Homo sapiens: one gene and its partners. The protein of the gene in region 1 interacts with the protein of each later gene in a biochemical or structural test. Each region holds a gene or a part of one and is shown on either strand. Other genes may lie near its edges.

What was found. The genes of interacting proteins can lie anywhere in the genome.
Region 2: the proteins of OCRL (region 1) and RAB6A form a complex in vitro, tested with the Homo sapiens proteins (2 studies listed by BioGRID and IntAct, with this or other methods).
Region 3: the proteins of OCRL (region 1) and RAB31 form a complex in vitro, tested with the Homo sapiens proteins (2 studies listed by BioGRID and IntAct, with this or other methods).

Annotation. Positions count from the first base shown.
Region 1 is NC_000023.11:129,536,361-129,543,270, reverse strand, and holds the start of OCRL (inositol polyphosphate 5-phosphatase OCRL), read right to left. Parts: upstream 3,013-6,910; 5' UTR 2,832-3,012; coding exon 2,793-2,831; intron 2,531-2,792; coding exon of another isoform or gene 2,528-2,530; coding exon 2,448-2,527; intron 1-2,447. UniProt on the Homo sapiens protein: Catalyzes the hydrolysis of the 5-position phosphate of phosphatidylinositol 4,5-bisphosphate (PtdIns(4,5)P2) and phosphatidylinositol-3,4,5-bisphosphate (PtdIns(3,4,5)P3), with the greatest catalytic activity towards PtdIns(4,5)P2.
Region 2 is NC_000011.10:73,751,054-73,758,080, forward strand, and holds part of RAB6A (ras-related protein Rab-6A), read right to left. Parts: intron 1-7,027. UniProt on the Homo sapiens protein: The small GTPases Rab are key regulators of intracellular membrane trafficking, from the formation of transport vesicles to their fusion with membranes.
Region 3 is NC_000018.10:9,844,295-9,851,321, reverse strand, and holds part of RAB31 (ras-related protein Rab-31), read right to left. Parts: intron 5,741-7,027; coding exon 5,631-5,740; intron 1-5,630. UniProt on the Homo sapiens protein: The small GTPases Rab are key regulators of intracellular membrane trafficking, from the formation of transport vesicles to their fusion with membranes.

The DNA.
Region 1 (6,910 bases):
ACTACGTGTTACCCACTAAATTACAATAAAAGAGTAGGGCTAAGAATAAGCATAAAAATTCTGAGTGTAATTATTCATTTCAGAATATAAAGATTAGAAATAATTGGTATACAGCAAAACAATGGAATTCAGAATTTGGTAGTTGTCAAACAGAAAAGAGTGACAAATCCTGAATGCCAACTCTGCCTTATCCCTAGGAAACACTTTGATTTGTTCAAGGAAGGTTAAAGGTCAAACAGGTTTTGTCATAATCTATTATCCTTGAAAAATATGAATCTTAAGTGTTTGATTCCCTGTTTCCAAAAAAACCCTGATTTTTAATTGTAATTTTGGTCAAGCAAATTTCCTATGGTTGACAGTAGGAACCACAGACCTAAAGATTTAAGTCAGGCTTCAAGTTCTAGGATAAAAAAGCCAAAAGTAAAAAGTTCTGGACACTCGAGTCAGAAAAGACACCAGAGAGACAAGAATATGAGGATTACAGATGGTATTATGGTATTAGGTGTCTCCAGCAAATGCTTTCAAGAGAAACTTCTCAGTGTAATTCTGAGACATGTTACATAGGATCAGATCTCAGGTATTCTACTCCCTAATTGCAAACAAGTGACTTAACCTGTCTGTGCTTCAATTTCTGTATCTATAAAAGGGGGATGATGATATTACTATCTTATAGTAACCCTCACATGTGGATTAAATGAACTAACTAATGAAAAGGGCTTAGAACAGTACCTGGCACATAAGCAGCCATTGAATGTTAGTTATATAGCAACAACTATATTAGTTGTTAGTTATATGTTAGTTTATATATAAACTATAGTTTATATGTATTTAAAACTATAGTTTATATATATTTAAAACTATTTACATAGTTTATATATAAACTGCTAATATAGCAACAACTATATTAGTTGTTAGTTATATAGTTGTTATATAGTGTTACCTATATATTAATGTTAGTTATATAGCAGCCCCATACCCCCACATATACCCCCAACTATACCCCCATAACTTACACAGAATTGGAACACACGACTTCCTTATTAGCTCAACAGAGTTCCAAATCTACTAATCCGAGGGACTAGATTCTGGGCTGTGGTCATCTCAACAATGTAGCTACTCTATTCAATCTTCATGATTTTGTTTTTACATTAGAGGAAACCAAGGCACACAAGTTTTACTGGTTTGCCCAAGGGTCACCTCTCTGTAACCCACTCTAGCCTTTGGAAATGTTAGTGGTGTTCCACTTTTCTGCTGAATTTTGTTTTATTAAATTCTGAATTTAGTTTAGTTTCATTAAACTAGTCTTCCAGGGTTTGATGAAATCCGGGTTTGATGAACTTCCCAGTAGAGCTGACTAAGCAGGACCTATGAAAGAGCTACTTCACAGAATTAGCTGACATCCAGTTAGAGTGGCACCAATAGTCTCAGAGAAGAGCAGGTTGGGCCAGTGGGAATTTCTTCCGTGTAAATCTGACAGCATAGATACAGAGGATCTAAAAGTGGGGACTGAGAAAATTGGTTTTAGGCAGAAGCCAATGTTGGGAGATGGCAAGATTTAAGTGAACAATTTTTAAACTGGGAAGGAATATGATGTCAAGAAGCCAATGAATATCCAAGTGAGGTGTCTTGGGCACACAGGGATAGGGGCCTATGATACGTAATGGTCACCATGGATATTTTTGAGATAAGATATTAGTGACAATAGAGTGAGGTTAGCAGCTATGGTGATAGCTTATCAAAATAATCTTTTGATCAATCAGTCAACAGTATTTACGGAGCTCCTATGGCAGAGAGGAAGGTGACACACTGATAAAATACTGTCATTTCTATCTCTACACATTTCATTACCTTTTCTTTCTAACAGTAAAGTCAGTAAGTGAGGCAGTTTCTGGCCTACACTAAACCATTACTGAATTAATGAATATGCCTTCAACCCAGTGGGATAAGGGGACGGGGAGACTGGAGAAACCAGCTGAATAGGGTTAAGACAAGTCTGTAACGTTAACAATGAAGCATTTCCATAGCACTTTTACTTTTTGGAAGCCACTCTCGCATTTATTTTTCCCCCAGTTATAATTCCAAAGGCTGTAAGGTAAGGCAGTTAATGGTTTTATTAAACTGAAGAGTTAACTTTGGCCCAGAAAGCTTTATTGACTTGCCCAACGTTACACAACACATGTCAGTTGCAGGGGCAGGAACTAAGAACCCAGGCTTCCTGCTTCCCCGCCCATTCAGTCCTTCCACTGAGCCACACTGCCAAGCACAATCCAGAGGCTTGGAAGTTGGGGACAAAGCCCCGAGGTTAGAGAGCACTGGCACTTCACACCTGGACCTGAACCTGTTGCCCGCGTGGCTTCAGTAGGAGGACAGTGGGTGACCCGTCGCGGTTTGGGGTTGGGAGGTAATGGCAGGCTCCCCTCCTCTGTGGGAATCAGGTGGTTACTTACTCATATTGCCCGTTCCTCTGGGCTAGGGTCAGGGCGCAGGGCTCCCGGAGAGGACCCTTCATCTCCATACCCTCGACAGTATGCGGGCGCTAGTCAAGGGTCTCCTTCGGAAGCGCGGTGGGGAGGAGTGGTGCACTGCGGGGCGAAGGGGGTCTTCCACCCCCCCCCCACCGCCGCCCTCCCCCGCCCCGCCCCGCCCTGCTTCGTCTCCCGCGCCGGCCCCCTCCCCCTCTCTGCTCGGCCTCTGGGCCACCCGGTTGCCCCGCCCCACCGTGTTCCGCAGGGCCCCCGACCCCCACCCCCGGCCCTGCGCGGCCTCCCCTCTCCCTTCTCTCCGGCGGATACGGCAAGCGGCTGGGCTCCGACCGGGAGCGGCGGCTCCATCCAGGCGGCCTCCGGGCTCAGCAGGACAGCGGACTGCGGGCCGATCCGACGACACTGGCTCCCGCGTCCCCACACCCACCCACCTCGGCTGCGTGTCGTTTGAGGAACAGCTCCGCGCCGGGCGCCGGGCGCCGGGAGCCGGGAGCGGGGAGCTGGGAGCTGAGAATCTGACCCAAGAGAGAGCGGCGCCTCGCGCCCCCGCCAGTTTTCCAGGCCGCCGCAGATTCCGTCCCCTGCGGTCAAACTGCGGAACTGCAGCGAGAGACCTGACGGACTGGGGGCGTCTCTACCAGGTCCAGCAAGGAATGGGTTTTAAATGCCACCTGTGACATCAAAATTGTTCTGAGGACTTTGAAGGCCACAGAAACAAAACACAGTCATACCTATGGGAGATCTCAAACCTGTTGTGTCAATACGACCCACATCATTCAGTAAAAAAATACATATATATATATATATATATTTCTTAAGGTTATAATGTCCCGTGTTGGTTATCCTACCATTTCCTTTCCTCTTCTTTCTTCCACGCCCTAAATCGGAGAATTCCCCAAAGCCCAGACCTTTGCTCCTCCTCTGCGTCCCCTCCAGTTCACCTCTAACTAGACAATGTCCAAATATATATCCCTGGCCCAGACCTCTTACCTAATAGAGTCCATTGTTAACACATCACTGCGTCACAAAACTAACTCATTATCATTTCACTGGAAAGCCATATATCGTCTTCCCCCTCCTCATCTCTATATCCAATCAGTCAACACACCCTGTTAATATTTTACGTGGAATTACTTTTAGATTCCTTATTTTCTCTCCATTCACACTGCCATAACTTTATTGTAAGCCCTTGTGATAGCCTATCTGGGTTATTGCACTTTTCTTTAAATAAATCCTGTTGGGTTTACTCTTTCCTTTGACATGTTTACTCTGTTGACAGCCATAAAAATATTTTTCCCAAAGTAATTTTTCGATCGTGTTATTCATTTGCTCCAGAATCTATAATACACTAGATATCAAGAGTGACTGTAAATCTGTAGTAATTAAAAGTATGCTGTGGAGATAGACAATCAATGAAACACAATATAAACCCCTCAAACAGACCACACATATACGGAAGGTTGATATGCAGCGTGTGGGACATTTCAAATCAGTGGGGAAAGAATGGATTATCCACTAAGTGGTACTAGGACTACTGCTTATCCATATGGAAAATTATAAAAATTAGACCCCTACCTCAAACCATGGAAGAAAAATCAGTTCCAGGTGGATTAAAGATCTAAATGTGAAAAGCAAAACTTTATAACTTTCAGAAAAAAAAATTGAGTATGAGCTTGGAATATGGAATGAGAATAAGACATTTAGCTACATGAAATTTCAAAATGTATGTACTTTAAGACAATATAAACAAGTTAAAAGACAAACTGGCCTGCACAGTGGCTCATGCCTGTAATCCCAGCACTTTGGGAGGCCGAGGTGGTAGGATCACTTGAGCCCAGGAGTTCAAGACCAGCCTGGGAAACGTGGCAAAACCCTGTCTCTACAAAAACTATAAAAATTAGCTGGATGTGGTGGCAAGTGCTTGCAGTCCCAGCTACTCAGGAGGCTGAGGTGGGAGCATCCCCTTGAGCCAGCGAGGTCACATCTACAGTGAGCTGTGATGGCGCCACTGCACTCCAGCCTGGGTGACAGAGCAAGACCTTGTCTCAAAAAAAAAAAAAAAAAAAAAAGACAAGCTGTCATCACCTTTCGGACATCTCCCACCATTTCCCACCACTCTCCCTAACTAGCTTTGCTTAGTCACACTGACTCCTTGTTGTTGCTAGGACTTGCCAGGCACACTCTTACCTCAGGGCCTTTACACTTGCTGTTCACTCTGCATGCACTCTCACCTCCTTCAGGTCTTTGCTCAAATGTCACTTTCTCACTGAAGCCTTCCTAGACCACTTTATTGAAAATTGTAATTCAACAATCCCCTTCTCCATCACCACACATACATGTTCCCTATCCCTCTTCCCTGCTTATGTATCACTATCTACCACTTCTGTTTTATTTATCAATATTATTGGTCATTTACCTTCACCCGCTAGAATGTTGAGTTCCATGAGTGCAAGGATTTTGTCTGTTTTGATCATAGCTGCATTCTCAGTGCCTAGAACCATTCTTGGAGCCAAGTAGGTGCTAGAAAAATATTGATTAAATGAATGAATGACTTGGTATCCAGGATATATAAGAACTCCTATAAATAAGAAAGAAACCTAATAGAAAAATTGACAAAATATCTGAGTAAGTAATTCATAGTCAAGGAAACCCAGATGGCCAATAAAGACATGAAAAGATGCCTAACTTTATTACTATTCAGGGAAATTGAAAAGTAAAACCACGAGATACCATTTCACAACCATCGGTTTTGTGAAAATTTAAAAAGTCAGACAACCCCAAGTGTTGTTGAAGTTCTAGCAGTGGAACTCTGATTTACGGCTAGAAGGAGTTTAAGTTGGTAGAACTGCTATGAAGAACAATTTGACGATGTCTAATAAAGGCAATACCCCTCAATCTAGAAATTCTATTTCTAGATATAGACACTGGCAAAACTCTACCTTTTATATGCACAAAGAGACATATAAAAGAATGTTCATTGCAGTATTATTTGTAATCTCAAAAATGGAAGCCAAGTAAATGTCAGCAGGTGAATGAATAAATAATGGTGTTCTCGATGAATGAATTTGAGCTATGGGTAGTAACAGCTAAATTTCAAAAATATAATGTTGAGTGAAAAGCAAATTGCAAAACATGTACAGTATACTGTGTATATAAAGTCTGAAAATATCATCTATTGCTTATGGCTACATAGATGAGTAGTACTGTAATAGTATATAAAACATGAAAGGGCATGATCACCAAATTTAAGAGAGGGAGAGGATTGACACTCGGGGGAGGCATACAGAGAATATCAAATATATCTAATATTTATTTCTCAAAACAGAATCTGAAAAGTGATGTTGCAAGATTTGATAGAACTGGGTGGTGGGTACATATATTGGTTCTGTTATTCCATGTACTTTCCTGCACTGAAAATCATTTGCAGTCAATGAAAACGAAAGATAAAGAAGGAATATGCAGGGGAGGTTAGCAGTATCAAATGCTGAAAATAGGACAAGAAAATGAGGGCCAAAGAGACTTTCTTTGGACGTGTCAAGGAGTTCACTGGAGACCAATAATTGTTTGGTTTCAATAAGTGGTGAGGATAGAAACAAGATTATGGGGAATTGAGGAGGAACTGTATTGTGAGAAAACGGAGACAAGAGACCACAGATTGAAGAGGTTTGGAAATAAAAAGGAACGAAGTACAATTTTAATTAAATTAGTTAGAAGGGTCAAACAGAGGTTGTTGACAAAGCCTGAAGCCACTTTAAAGCAAAGAGGAAGGAACCAACAAAGAGGGGGCCTTTTTTTTTTTTTTTTTTTTGAGACGGAGTCTCGCTCTGTCGCCCAGGTCGGACTGCGGACTGCAGTAGCGCAATCTCGGCTCACTGCAAGCTCCACTTCCTGGGTTCACGCCATTCTCCTGCCTCAGCCTCCCGAGTAGCTGGGACTACAGGCGCCCGCCACCGCGCCCGGCTAATTTTTTGTATTTTTAGTAGAGACGGGGTTTCACCTTGTTAGCCAGGATGGTCTCGATCTCCTGACCTCATGATCCACCCGCCTCGGCCTCCCAAAGTGCTGGGATTACAGGCGTGAGCCACCGCGCCCGGCCAGAGGGGGCCTTTTAAGATGCTAGAAGAGAGAGGCAGTAAGGTTGCAAGCAAAATCCCTCAGTAATTGAGAGGGACAAAGATCCAAGATGTAGATGGCGGAATCGGCCTTAGGGAAAAGGCGAGATACTTCTTCCTCCAACTTTACAGTATCCTCAGCACCTAAACAGTGCATTGCACATAGTGGGCACTCAATAAATATTTGTTAAGTGAAGAATAAGAGGTTGTGTGGAAATTAAAATATATTGAGGTAAGGACACTAAAAACTGAGGTCTCTCACAGGGGAAATGATGGTTGCATATAAGTGGCTTCCAATGCAAAGAGTTAAAAGAC
Region 2 (7,027 bases), on another chromosome or scaffold:
CTTAGTGTCCCAAAGTGCTGGGATTACAGGTGTGAGTCACCATGCCCCCCGGCCAAAGTGTACTTTTAAAAAAGAAAAGAGTCAGGCTCACTGGCCTGACTCTATAGTCCCAGCTACTCAGGAGGCTGAGGCAGGAGGATCACTTGAGCCAGGAGTTCCGGGCTGTAGTACGCTATAATCATGCCTGTGAATGGACTGCACTCCAGCCTGGGCAACACAGAAAGACCCCGTCTCAAAAAACAAACCAACTAACCAACCCTAAGCAAGTATTAAGTGTTGGTTCTCGGAAAATCTGAATCATCCAAGTTAGAAAGTAGAAAGCAAATGGAAAAGTAGTAATTGACCTAAAAGACTCAATAATGATCAATTTTAAACCGACAATGGGGAAAGCTGAGAAAGCTGATTTGGACCACAGAACCCCCATTGACTTAGGAATTGTCTGGGCCAAGTACATCTAGAAATAAAGGTAAAGATGGAGCTAAAAACAGAAGGAAGGGATGAAAGTCTATTTAACAAGTAGATTAACACTCTCTTCTATTCCCTCTTCTGTTCAACACAGCTGAAAATTAGAAGATAATGCTGCTGAGAAAGAAAAACGGGGTTTCTGTACTAGGGATTACAAGGTACAGCTGAGGGATAGAGTACAAACAATATTAAAAGCAAGGAGACTAAATGCATTTACTGTATGTTATGACTTCAAACCCTCTCTCCATTCACCTCCAAGAACACTGACAACCAAGATTCTCTCCAGCAGTGCACTGAGTAATTCTTCTTCAGGGAATCTGACCAGCAAAAAGACTTAAAGACCTAACATCAGAGACTCCCAAAAAGGAACTCAGCAAGATCATTCTGCAGTAAAGACCCACAAACCCACACAAGAGCATAAAAAACAAAAACAAAAACACAACTCTCAGTGCTCACCTCTTAAATAGAAGCAAATAGCCAAGAAACACTAGTTTTTTGAGGACCACATCAAACAGGAAATAGAGAAACTAAAACAAGCAGAGATGAAAAACAATTTACAAAAACTAAATATGCAGGAAGAAAAAAGTCATGTATCTTATTAACATCTTCAAAATGACAAGAAAAGGTAAAAATTGGGAATTAAAAAGATGCTACAGAAGGCTGGGTGTGGTGACTCCCACCTGTAATCCCAGCACTTTGGGAGGCCAAGGGGGCAGATCACTGAAGGTCAAGAGTTCGAGACCAGTCTGACAAACAGTGAAATCACGTCTCTACTAAAAATACAAAAATTAGCCAGGTATGGTGGCAGATGCCTGTAATCTCAGCTACTCAGGAGACTGAGGTATGAGAATCGTTTGAACCCGGGAGGTAGAGGTTGGAGTAAGCCAAGATTGCACCATTGCACTCCAGCCGGGGTGACAGGGCAAGATTCTGTCTCAAAAAAACAAAAACACAGATGCTACAGAAAGGAACATTCAGAAGATGAACAAAAACACTCTTTGAAATTAAAATGATAAGAACTGGCACGGTGGCTCATGCCTGTAATCCTAGCACTCTGGGAGACCGAGGCCAGGCAGATCGCATGAGCTCAGGAATTCGAGATGAGCCTGGGCAACATGGCAAAACGCCATCTCTACCAAAAATACAAAAAATAGCCGGCCTTGGTGGCGCATGCTTGTGGTTCCAGCTACTCAAGAGGCCGAGGTGGGAGGATCACTTGAGCCTGGAAGGCACAGGTTGCGGTGAGCTGAGATTGCACCACTGCACTCAAGCCTGGGTGACAGAGTAAGACTCCAGCTCAAAAAAAAGAAAAAAAAAATTAAAATGATAGCAGAAAAAAATAATAAAAAAATGGAAGAAAGTTGAGAAAAATCTTATGAGAATTAAAACAGAAGCTTAAGGAAATGAAAGAGACCAGATGAAATAAAATCAGGAAGTCTAATAAAAAGTCCAAGCCAGGTGAGGTGGTGCATGCCTGTAATTCCAGAGTCAGGAGCTTGAGGCGGGAATCACTTGAGGCCAGGAGTTGGAAAGCAGCCTGGCAACACAGCAAGACCTCGTTTGCTAAAAAAATTTTTTTTAATCAGCCGAGCGCAATGGCGAATGCCTCTAATCCCAACAGCTCCAGAGGCTGAGGTGGGAGGATCACTTGAGCCCAGGAGCTCGTGGCTGCAGTGAGCTATAATGGCACCCCTGTACTGTAGCCTGGGTGAGACAGCAAGGAGTTCAAGACTAACCTGGCCAACATGGCCACTCACTGCAACCTCTGCCTCCCGGGCTCAAGTGACTCTCCTGCCTCAGCCTCCTGAGATGGGATTACAGATGCACGCCATCATGCCCAGCTAATTTTTTGTATTTTAGTAGAGACAGGGTTTCACCATGTTGGCCAGGCTAGTCTCCAACTCCAGACCTCGCCGGGCACAGTGGCTCATGCCTGTAATCCCAGCACTTTGGGAGGCCGAGGCAGGCAGATCACGAGGTCAGGAGATCGAGACCATCCTGGCTAACACGGTGAAACCCCGTCTCTACTAAAAGTACAAAAAATTAGCCGGGCATGGTGGCGGGCGCCTGTAGTCCCAGCTACTCCGGAGGCTGAGGCAGGAGAATGGCATGAACCCGGGAGGCAGAGCTTGCAGTGAGCCGAGATTGCGCCACTGCACTCCAGCCTCGGTGACTGAGCGAGATTCCGTCTGAAAAAAAAACAAAAAAACAAAAAAACTCCAGACCTCAAGTGATCTGCCCACCTAGGCCTCCCAAAGTGCTGGGATTACAGGCGTGAGCCACCACGCCCAGCCTTAGCTCTACTTTTAAAAGCAGTGGCACTCATCATGCTATATTGTATTAAGTATTGTGTATTTCTTCCCTGATAAAACGTAAATTCCTTAAAAGTAAGCACTACCAAACCACCTGACACTGTAGCAATTTTCAATAAAGATTTGTTAAATTAAAACACTTTCTGAGCACTTCTCATGTGCCCAGCACTCTTCTAAATGTTTTGCATTATTTGACTAGTTTAAATGTCACAATAACTCTATGATAGGTCTATTATCTTTATGTTATAGATAAGGAAAAATGGGGCATAAAGACATGTTGAGTAATCTGCCAAAGGTCAGTAGCCACTGCTAAAACATGAAACCTAGACTCTTACTCTCCATCTCTACCAGTCCTCTAGTGCTCTAAATCATTAACTGTATGTACCACGCAGTTTTAAGGCTTCAGAACAAGATATGAAAAACTGGCAACATTATAACAGGAGATACAATTGACTTGATATTACCTAACCCAGCAGTTTACAAAGAGTGGTCTACTGACCCCTTAGGATCTCCCAAGACCTTTGGGGAGGTCCACAAACTCCTGGATGTCAAAACCATTTTCATAAGATTAAGATGTTATTTGAATTTTTCACTCTTACTCTCTTGAAATGTATTGTGGAGTTTCCCCGTGCCTATATGATGTGTAATATTACAGGATTGAATGCATAAGCAGCTATGCAAATCCAATTGTCCTCTATTAAGTCAGACATTAAAGAGATTTGCAAATATGTAAAACAATGTCACTCTCACTAAATATCTGTTTGGAAAATAGTTCTTTTTCATTTCAGAAATGATGTTAACATGAAGGCTGGGCACAGTGGCTCATGCCTGTAATCCCAGCACTTTGGGAGACCAAGGCAAGCAGGTCACTTGAGGCCAGGAGTTTGAGACCAGCCTGGCCAATATAGCAAAACCCTGTCTCTACTAAAAAGTCAAAAAATTAGCCAGGCATGGCGGCATGTACCTGTGGTCCCAGCTATTCAGGAGGCTGAGGCATGAGAATCGCGAACCCGGGAGGCACTCACTCCATCCTGGGCAACAGAGGGATGCAGTCAAAAAAAAAAAGGGTATTAACATGCAATGGGTTTATTATTATTATTATTATTTTTTTGAGATGGAGTTTTGCTCGTTGCCCAGGCTGGAGTGCAATGGCGTGATCTTGGCTCACTGCAACCTCCACCTCCCGGGTTCAAGGGACTCTCCTGCCTCAGCCTCCTGAGTAGCTGGCACTACCACTGGGACCGTCCACCACCATGCCAGGCTAATTTCTTTGTATTTTTAGTAGAGACGGGGTTTCACCATATTGGCCAGGTTGGTCTCAAACTTCTGGCCTCAAGTGATCCGCCCACCTCGGCCTCTCAAAATGCTGGGATTACAAGCATGAGCCACCACGCTCGGCCCTATTATTTTTTAACATATTAAATATTTTGAAATTTTCTTTTTCAATACAGTAAATGTTGATATATTTATTCATTTATTTTGAGATGGAGCCTCACTCTGTTGCCCAGGCTGGAGCGCAGTGGCACGATCTTGGCTCACTGCAACCTCCACCTCCCGAGTTCAAGCAATGCTCCTGCCTCAGCCTCCCGAAGAGCTGGGACTACAGGCACGCACCACCATGCCCGGCTAATTTTGTATTTTTAGTAGAAACGGGGTTTCGCCATGTTGCCCAGGCTGGTCTCGAACCCCTGACCTCAGGTGATCCACCCACTTCGGCCTCCCAAAGTGCTGGGATTATAGGCGTGAGCCACCGCACCCGGCCTAAATGTTGACATAAACTACATAAACAAAAGTCAGGCACAGTGGCATGTGCCTATAGTCCCAGCTACTAGGGAGGCTGAGGCAGGAGGAGAGCTTGAGACAAGGCTGCAGTTGGCCATGATAGCCCCTGTGAACAGTCACTGCATCCAAGAAGGGGGAAGGAAATGGGAAGAGGAAAGGAGGAAGGAAGGGAGAAAAGGAAAGGAAGGGGGAGGTGGAAAGGGGGAAGGAAGGGAGAAGGGGGAAGGAAGAGAAAGAAGAGGAGGAGGAGGAAGAAGAACAAGAGGAGGAGGAGAAGGAAGAGGAGGAGGAAGAAGAGGAGGAGGAGAAAGAAGAGGAGGAGGAGGAAGAAGAACAACAATAACAACTACATTAACAGAGCTCTTCAGGATCCTCAAAAATTTGTAAGAGCAGAAAGGGGTCTTGGGGAAAAAAAGTTTAAAAACCACTGATCTAGCCAATATAAAATGTTCAGTACTGGCCAGGCGTGGTGGCTCACACCTGTAATCCCAGCACTTTGGGAGGCTGAGGCCGGAGGATCTCGCCAGCTCAAAACTTTGAGACCAGCCTGGGCAACATGGTAAAATCCCATCTCTACAAAAAAATACAAAAATTAGCCAGGCGTGGTGGTGCGTGCCTGTTGTCCCAGCTACTTGGGAGGCTGAGGTGGGAGGATCACTTGAGCCTGGGAGGTGGAGGGTGCAGTGAGCTGAGATCACACCACTGCACTCCAGCCTGAGTGACAGAGGTAGACCCCGTCTCAAAAGAAAAACAACTGGTCAGTACTGCTAGTCTCTGACAATAAGACATTTTTTCCTTATCTAACATATTGCAATTTGATCAGCATTGATGGAAAAAAAGAAAAGGCAATATAAAGTGAAAAAAACAGTAGTAGGCTGAGTATGCGCTTCTCTCTGCCATTACATCTCCTAATTTATAATTGGTAACATGTATATATAGTGAAATCTTCTACTGTAAACCACTGAGTGACATTACTAAAACTGCCTCTGCATCTCAAGACAATAGCCAGAGGTAGTAACAAAACAGACTCCTCAAGGAAACTTCCAATTGTGTATTTCAACATTCCTTTATTTATTTATTTAGAGACAAAGTCTCGCTCTGAGGCCCAGGCTGGAGTGCAGTGGGGCAATCTCAGTTCACTGCAACCTCCACCTCCTGGGTTGCAGTTTTCCTGCCTCAGCCTCCTGAGTAGCTGGGATTACAGGCACACGCCACCACGCCCAGCTAGTTTTTGGATTTTTAGTAGAGATGGGATTTTGCCATGTTGGCCAGGCTGGTCTTGAACTCCTGACCTCAGGTGATTTGCCTGCCTCGGACTCCTAAAGTGCTGGGATTACAGGCGTGAGCCACCACGCCCAGCCAAACATTCCTTTATTAAACCGTAAGAATTTATCTAAGGTTAAGATTGATGTCATTAACTCAATCTGCTTCATGTACTGACACAATTCATTTTCACTATAGAGCGTAGTATCTTAAATATACATACATATATATATATATATATATATATATATATATTTTTTTTTTTTTTTTTTTTTTTTTTTTTCTTGAGACAGAGTCTCACTCTGTCACCCAGGCTGCAGTGCAATGGCATGATCTCAGCTCACTGCACCCTCCGCCTCTCAGGTTCAAGCGATTCTCCTGCCTCAGCCTCCTGAGTAGCTGGGATTACAGGCTCCCACCCGCCATCATACCTGGATAATTTTTGTATTTTTGTAGAGACCGGGCCATGGGGTGGGGGGGAGCCGGGGACTCCACCATGTTAGCCAGGCTGGTCTTGAACTGCTGACCTCAGATGATTCACCTATCTCAGCCTCCCAAAGTGCTGGGATTACAGGCATGAACCACCGCACCCAGCCTAGTATCTTAAATTTTTGATAAGCCAAATAAAACCTAATTTCAAATCAGTTCCATGAGCACATCATTGGTATAATTTGAATACTTTTCATGCGTTACATTAATAGCAAATAATTTAACAACTTTAATAAAGGAAGACGAATTTTGCTCAACTCAAAAAAAAGTACAAAATTCAGGTCAGTCCTATTTTTTGAATGAAATGGTTGGGCCTCTAAACGATTGGTTTCTCTACCCCCTTAAGTATCTGATATATTCCTGTATACAATCAAATGATGTAAGTTTTAAGTGTTATTGTTAAACTATCAATTGCGTAACCATGTCAAAGAGTGTAACATAGGCTACTAGCTTTCGTTACTACTAGATTCAGCCATCATTCATTTACCCAACATGTCTGAACAGCTACTATGAGCCTGGCTCTACGCTAGGCAATGGGGACACACTGAACAAAAAAGAATAGTTTTTATCTTCATGGGAGTTGCATTCTTCTGTGGGAAATAAAAACAAACACATAAAAAATAAGATAATTGTAAATGTGGTAAATGCTATTAAGAAGAAACAAGGCTTTGCCATAGATTACAGTCTTTGAAAGCTGAATTGTGGAATTCTAACAG
Region 3 (7,027 bases), on another chromosome or scaffold:
GACATGCCTTTTGAGACCCAACTTGCCCATATGCCGAAATGACATTATTTTACATTCACTAAATTAACTTTCTTGGTGTAAGAAAGTCTGTCCACTTTCTTAAGTGGATTGCATTTGGTAAATTAACTTTTTTTGGGGTGAGAAAGTGGACAAACTTTGTCTTTGTCCTTTCCTTGTTCCTTAACTGCTAAACTTACCTTCACCTGACAGCTTGCTGACTATTATAAAATCTGCAAACCTTTTGCTTTGCTTTAAAATTACTTTAACCTGCTACTAACTAAAGGTGCCTAGAGCACAACACTCTGTGAACAAATGTTTCCAGAACAAGACATGATCACTACCCACAAGTCTTAACTTGTTGTCTTTCATATTAACACCCCATTCCAATTTTCCAAGCCAATATGCTTGTACCTCTAAATATATTTACCTTATTTATTTATTTATTTATTTATTTTAGAGATAGGATCTCGTTCTGTTGCCCAGGCTGCAGGGCGGTGGCACAGTCATAGCTCACTGCAGCCTCAAACTCCTGGGCCCAAGTGATCCTCCTGCCTCAGTCTCCAGAGTAGCTGGGACTACAGGTGCACACCGCCATGCCCATATATTCACCTTAATAAAACAAATGTTTCTCACCTTGCTCTCAAACTAACAACAAATATAAAACCTGGTCTAATGTCTCTAGTGTCTCCAAGTGTAATTTTCAGGAGAAAGTCCTGCTTTCTCTGCCACAGTCAACACTTAAATTAACTGGAGCAAAATGCATAGCTATTTTGCTGGGTTCCACCCCAATCCAGACATTTTTCTGCTGAGCCTGCAGCTCCACCTCTCTTTGCCCTCAGGAAAAGTTAAAATACTTTTAAAGAGATATTCGAGTTAAGTAATTAAAATCCACAAACCAGCTGGCCATGGTGGCACATACCTGTAATCCCAGCACTTTGGGAAGCCAAGGCGGGAGGACCACTTGAGCCCAGGAGTTCAAGACCAGCCTGGACAATACAGCGAGACCTCATCTCTAAAAATAAAAAAATAATAATAATCTACAAACCAAAACTTGGGTTCACCACAATCCAGAATCCTATATGCTAGGCTCATAACCAAATCCAGCCCAGATCACTTGTTCCTATGCCAATCCTCCTCATTCCGGCAAACAGAACTTGGGGATGACTCTTGGTAACGCTGTCTTCCTCATTCCCCATCTCCTTCCAGTGTTATTGGTTCTTCTGGAAGATTTCTGAAATCCAGCTCCACTTCCTCCACCCTCGTCCAAGCCACTTCTCTCCTGGATTATTACAATCGCATGCCAACTGATTGAGACATGCGGAGACTTTCCTCCTTTTAAGTGTGATCTTTTTTTGTAAATGTAAATTGGACACTCTGCACTCCTGCTTTAAAAGCTTGAGGGGCTTCCAATTGTTTCAGAGTATCACCCTTACTCCCATGGCAAGGCCCTGCTGAGTCTCTAACCACAACTTCCCACAGCACTCCTTGCTCTTCCTTAAAAGCACCACGACATTTCCTGCCTTGGGACTTGGCTCCTGCGGTTTGCTCTGCCTGATAGCTCTTTGCCCACTGGCCTTTTCTCGTTTTTCAGGTCCAGCTTAAAATCATTTCCCCGGGGAGGCCTTCCTCACCCAATCTAAAGCCACTCCCTCGCCCCATAGTAACCTCTCACAGTCCACTCCTTCGCCGCGCAGCACCAATTACCAAGAGTCACCAGACACCGATCTGACTGTGCCCACAGCTGTCTCCCCGACTCCACTGTCACTGCGCCTTGTCACCGTGCTGTCCCCAGGGTCTAGCATGGCACCTACCCATAAAAGAGTACAGTATATATTTGTGAATAAACGAATCAAGAGTAAGTAGGCTTGTCTAATTTGCTGTTCTTCAACCTTAAATTCCCAGAGAAAAGTGATTACATTTCACTTTATATCATGAGATGAGGACGGAGATCCAAATTCAAAGCCCCGAATTCAGCACCATTCCATTTATTAGTCTCAGCTTCATGGGTAATACAAAAGACAAGCTCCCAAAGAACTTGCAATCTCCCTAGAAGAACAGGCACATACCTAAACGCTTGGAGAATCAATTAAAGATAAAATATGTTTAAGTGTCAAAATGGCAGAACAAACCAAAAGTAACCTCAAGTTTTTACTTTTCTTCCTTGGGTGTAAGAACCCAAGGAAAAAAAAATAAACAAACCCTGGGTAGAAATGCATGGAAGAGAATTAGCCACATGCAGGCAGACAAAGTAGGTCTAAAAATGTGATTTAGAAAAGGGTGCCTGGAGGAATACCAATCAGACGACAATATATTATATGAGGAGGACAAACTGCACAGACCACCCCAAACAGAGCAGCACCTAAATCCTTTACAGGGTAGCTTCAGTCTTTAAAAAGATAACATATTTTTGTAAGCAGTCTCCAGTTAGACACTGTATTTGCCAATGTTCAGAAAACACAGTTGTCCCATTTCTGGTTTATGAACACTATGGGACTGTAAAAGAGAAACATTCATCTCTTCATCCGAGTCAATGTGAATTCATTTTGTTTAAACACACCTTTTTAAAGGGCTTTTATTTTCACAGCTCCTTAACTTTTTATTGCATTTTTTCTCCAGGCATAGTCGACTGTGGAACATTGCTTTGGGGAGCCTAGGTGTCAGCAATATGTAGTTCTATTTTAAGCTCAGGGAGGAGCACATGTAATGTAAGTAGGAACAGGGAAAAGAAAAATAAATGAAAAGTCTGCTGCAGTATATTTAGGTGTACTTGGAATTGTGTTTTAAATTAACCTGCAATTAGGCTACAGAACTCCATTCTGAAGAAATTCACATGAAGGAGAAAAGAGGCAAAAGATCCAGTGCTTACACATGCAGATAGACAGGCGGACAGATGGACAGATGGACAGACAGACGGATGGCTAGATAGACAGATGACTAGACAGACAGATGTACAGATGAATAGATAGATAGACGGACAGATGGATAGACAGATGGACAGCTAGAAAGATGGATATACACACAGATGGACAGAAGGACAGACAGAGACAGACAGGCAGATGGACAGATAGACAGCCAAGTGGACAGATGGACAGACAGATGGAGGGAAAGATGGATAGACAGACAGATGGATAGCCAGACAGATGGACAGACTGAGGTTTTGCCATGGCTGTGTATTTACAAGCTTTCTTTGTCAAGGCAGTTACAACCAAAGTATAATAAAACAGAAACAAACAATTGTTTATGTGACATGAAAGATGAGGTGATATGGGTATTTGATGGCTTATATAGGAATTAATTACTTTGAAACCATAATTACCCATGTTTGAGCAAAGCACTTGTTTTTTCATAAAGTAGACCACCAAGATCTGAGGAATTAACCTGTTCAAAGTCCCTGTCACACACAGGAAGGGATTTATACTGGATAAATGTCTTTTAAGTTATTACTACAAGCCATGTGTGGTGGCTCACACCTGTAATCCTGGCACTTTGGGAGGCCGATGGGGGAAGATTGCTTGAGCTCAGGAGATTGAGACCAGCCTAGGCAACATGGCGAGACCTTGATTCTACTAAAAATCCAAAAATTTAGCTGAGTGTGGTGGTGCACACCTATAGTCCCAGCTACCCAGGTGGCTGAGGTCGGAGGATTGCTTGAGCCCAGGAGGTGGAGGCTGCAGCGAGCTATGATTGCACTACTGCACTCCAGCCTGAGCAACAAAGACTCTGTCTCAGAAAAAAAAAGAAAAAAGATATTAGTACAGTACTTCCTACTCAGGCTTCTTCTCTTTCAGGTCCTTATTTGATATTTTTAAATTTTAACAATGACTTTCATAAACTTCAGAAAGCTTCCCAGCTGGTGCAGAGATCTCAAGCTCAAGTTCAGGTCATACAAGGCACCAGGCTCCCCTGGCTGACCACTGATATCTGTGCTGGGGGTCTTCCAAGGCCAGGGAGCTAAGGAGGAGGAGGGGGCTCTGCGGAAGACGCGGGGCTGTAAGGATGGAAGGTGCTAAGGCAATCGTCCTCAGGAGCTATCTAGCTTCATTCATTAAAACCACCTGTAAAAACAAAATGTTTCATAGCTGAGCATAGCAGAAGAGCCTAACGCCACCAGAAGAGAATGAGTTTAATCTGAGGAAATGTGAGGCTAATGTAATGAGTTCGAGCCCAAACTTAGATGTCACCCAGAGTGACACAACACCAGAGAGCATCTGCACCCACTGACCATGATGGAGAAGGGAGAGGAATGTGGGGACATGGGGTTTCCCACATGAAATTCCAGCCCCAGCCTGCTAGAGTTCAGCCATTCAGGGCAAGGAGCCTGAAACCATTCTGTTGAGAGTAAGAAATCAAAGGAGGAAAGAAAGGGAAGGTGGAAAGAAGGGAAGAGAGTGAAGACCCCAGTGAAGGAAAGGGCCAGCAGCTGGGGAGGGGAGGCTCCAAGCCATTCTTTTGCACATTTCTTTTGCATATCTCTGCATAGTGTAGGTAAGACAGGTCAGAATTCCCCATCTCCAATGAATTCTCCATCAAGCCAACATAAACAAAAGATTCCCTCCTGTGGGTTCTTGGAGTCTAAAGTAATGCACTCAAACCAGTTAAACAGAAATCAAAACTGTTCTGGGAAGCCACGGCTTCTCTGACTTTGAGAGCTCTGCCAAAAACGATCTCAGGCAGGAAAGAGATCAAACCATCAGTTTCCCTTCTGGAGTTGTCTGGAGCTAAGATATTTGAGGACAATTACTGTTTTGGGGTTCAACTCCTCCTAAGGTGGCTATTCCAGGAACTTCAGGGCCAGTATTTCATCAAACACCTGTACTTCTCCCAACGTCCCTGATAATGCTCCGGTCGAACTTTCCTGAGGGTGTCTCAGAGCAGTTTTCCCAGATGGCTGTCAGCAGGGACTTCTCTGGCAGAATCCGGAACAGAATGACACAACCAGAGAACTTATGAAGGTTAAATCTGTTGAGCTGGAAGCCTCACAGCTGCAGATAGATGTGTTGGCAGAGCCATTAGCTGGGAACCAGCTCTGGTTGATAAGGTTATTCCCGGGGAGCCGGCATACAGTGAGCATAACGGGACCCAGCACTGGGACCAGGAAGGAGGCTGTCACCCTCCCTAATTAGCTCACCAGACACATGGGGTACCTGTACACGCCAACCCTGTATCCAATTCCCAATTTCAGGTCAAACAGGATGGAGACATTACTTTTTGTAGGAGATGATCAGGCAAAAAAAGTTACTGGAAGGTTCCCTCAGTTTACCTAGAGTCATCCCATCTAATGGGTGACCTTGAGTTCTATACCTTGTCTATTTTCTCTCTCCTCCTAACATAAAATGCTACAGAATGCATAATTTTCAATTAAAATAAATTTTATTTTTGCAACAGGATTACTTCATTTTAATTTACAGAACTCAGAGTGAACAGGTTCCAGTACAGAATCATGGAAATCTAGAATCGAGAGGATAATAGAAGTGGGTATTAACAACTGCATAGCTGTAGATTTTGTATCCATGGCATCCGATAAATTCACACAGAGGAAAAGTTCACTTCAGAGTTCTAAAATGTTATCCTTTGACTCCCAGAAGCATAAAAATGCAAGTTGGGCTGAAAACCCAATTTCAGGTACTTACTGATTCCTTGAAAGAGCTCTTCGATATTAATAGCATTTTTTGCACTTGTCTCAACCACGATGGCACCTATGGATTCAGCGTATTCCTTAGCATCCTTCAGGGGAACCTCCCTGGAAAAGAGGTCAAATGTAGACAGGAAATGAATGTTTGTTTGTAAAATACAAATCACCCAAAAGACCAGACAGCTTGTGCGGCAACAGCTCCTTTATCTTCTTGTAGAATAATAATTCAATCACTCAGCAAGAATGGACACCTAGTATGAGTGAGACTTTTTAAAGTTTAAAACCCAGTCTCTGGCATTCATGAAGAGAAGATATGCATATATAAAATAGTGTTCCTGCTCCCACAGAAGAATTCCAGAACAGCAGGGAAAACCATGACAAATATGGCAGTACACATTTCAGCTTTCAGAGCTACAGCTGATTTCAACTTTTTTCCCCATTACATGACTCAATATTAAAAAACACCAAACCTCTGTTAGTATGTTTGTGCACACATGCTTTTGTGAAACTTTTTACATATTATCTTTCACAAATCAGAGAAAATATGCAATGTGCTGTGACAGTTTGGAAACGAGCATGGTTATACCGACCATGGCTACAATACAGGATGGCATATCTGGACTTTCATCTGTAAAAGGATGTTCTCGCAAAGGTTTTAGGGCATGAACTCTATTTAAATGAACAATTAAAAAAATCTCCTCGGGAGGCTGAGGCAGGAGAATGGCGTGAACCCAGGAAGCAGAGCTTGCAGTGAGCCGAGATTACACCACTGCACTCCAGCCTGGGTGACAGAGCAAGACTCCGTCTCAAACAAAACAAAACAAAACAAAACAAAACAAAACAAAACAAAACAAAACTCACCTGAACGCACCTGATTTCATCTGATCTTGGAAGCTAGGCAGGGTCAGGCCTGGCTAGTACTTGGATGGGGTCTACGGCCATACCACCCTAAAAAAACCTACTGACCTCTTTTCAATGTGAAAATGCTGTGGTGGATCCAAAGATAAAAAAGATGCAGTTCCTATTCTCCAGCAGCTGCTGCATGCCAGTCCCTCTCCCAGGGGCCAGAGAAAACACAGGTTCTGCCTTCTGGCACCTGTGCTTTAGAACACAGACAAACAGGGCTCATCCAGGGGCACTCTAATCCACAACACTGCGACATAAAGTGCTTCAGGAGCAGAGGGGCAGGAAGTGATGTGTTCTGTTCAATAGACCCCAGGAAGATGCCCAGAGGTGGTCACCTTAAGTGTGGCCATGAAGGCTAGGCAAATGCAGGTCAGACTCTGGGATGGGACAGCCTGAGCAGAGGCCCAGAGACAGGAGAGTGCACACATTCCCGGAGATTATTAAAAGTTGATTCTGCACCCAGCACTGCTGGGGATGTTATGGCGGATT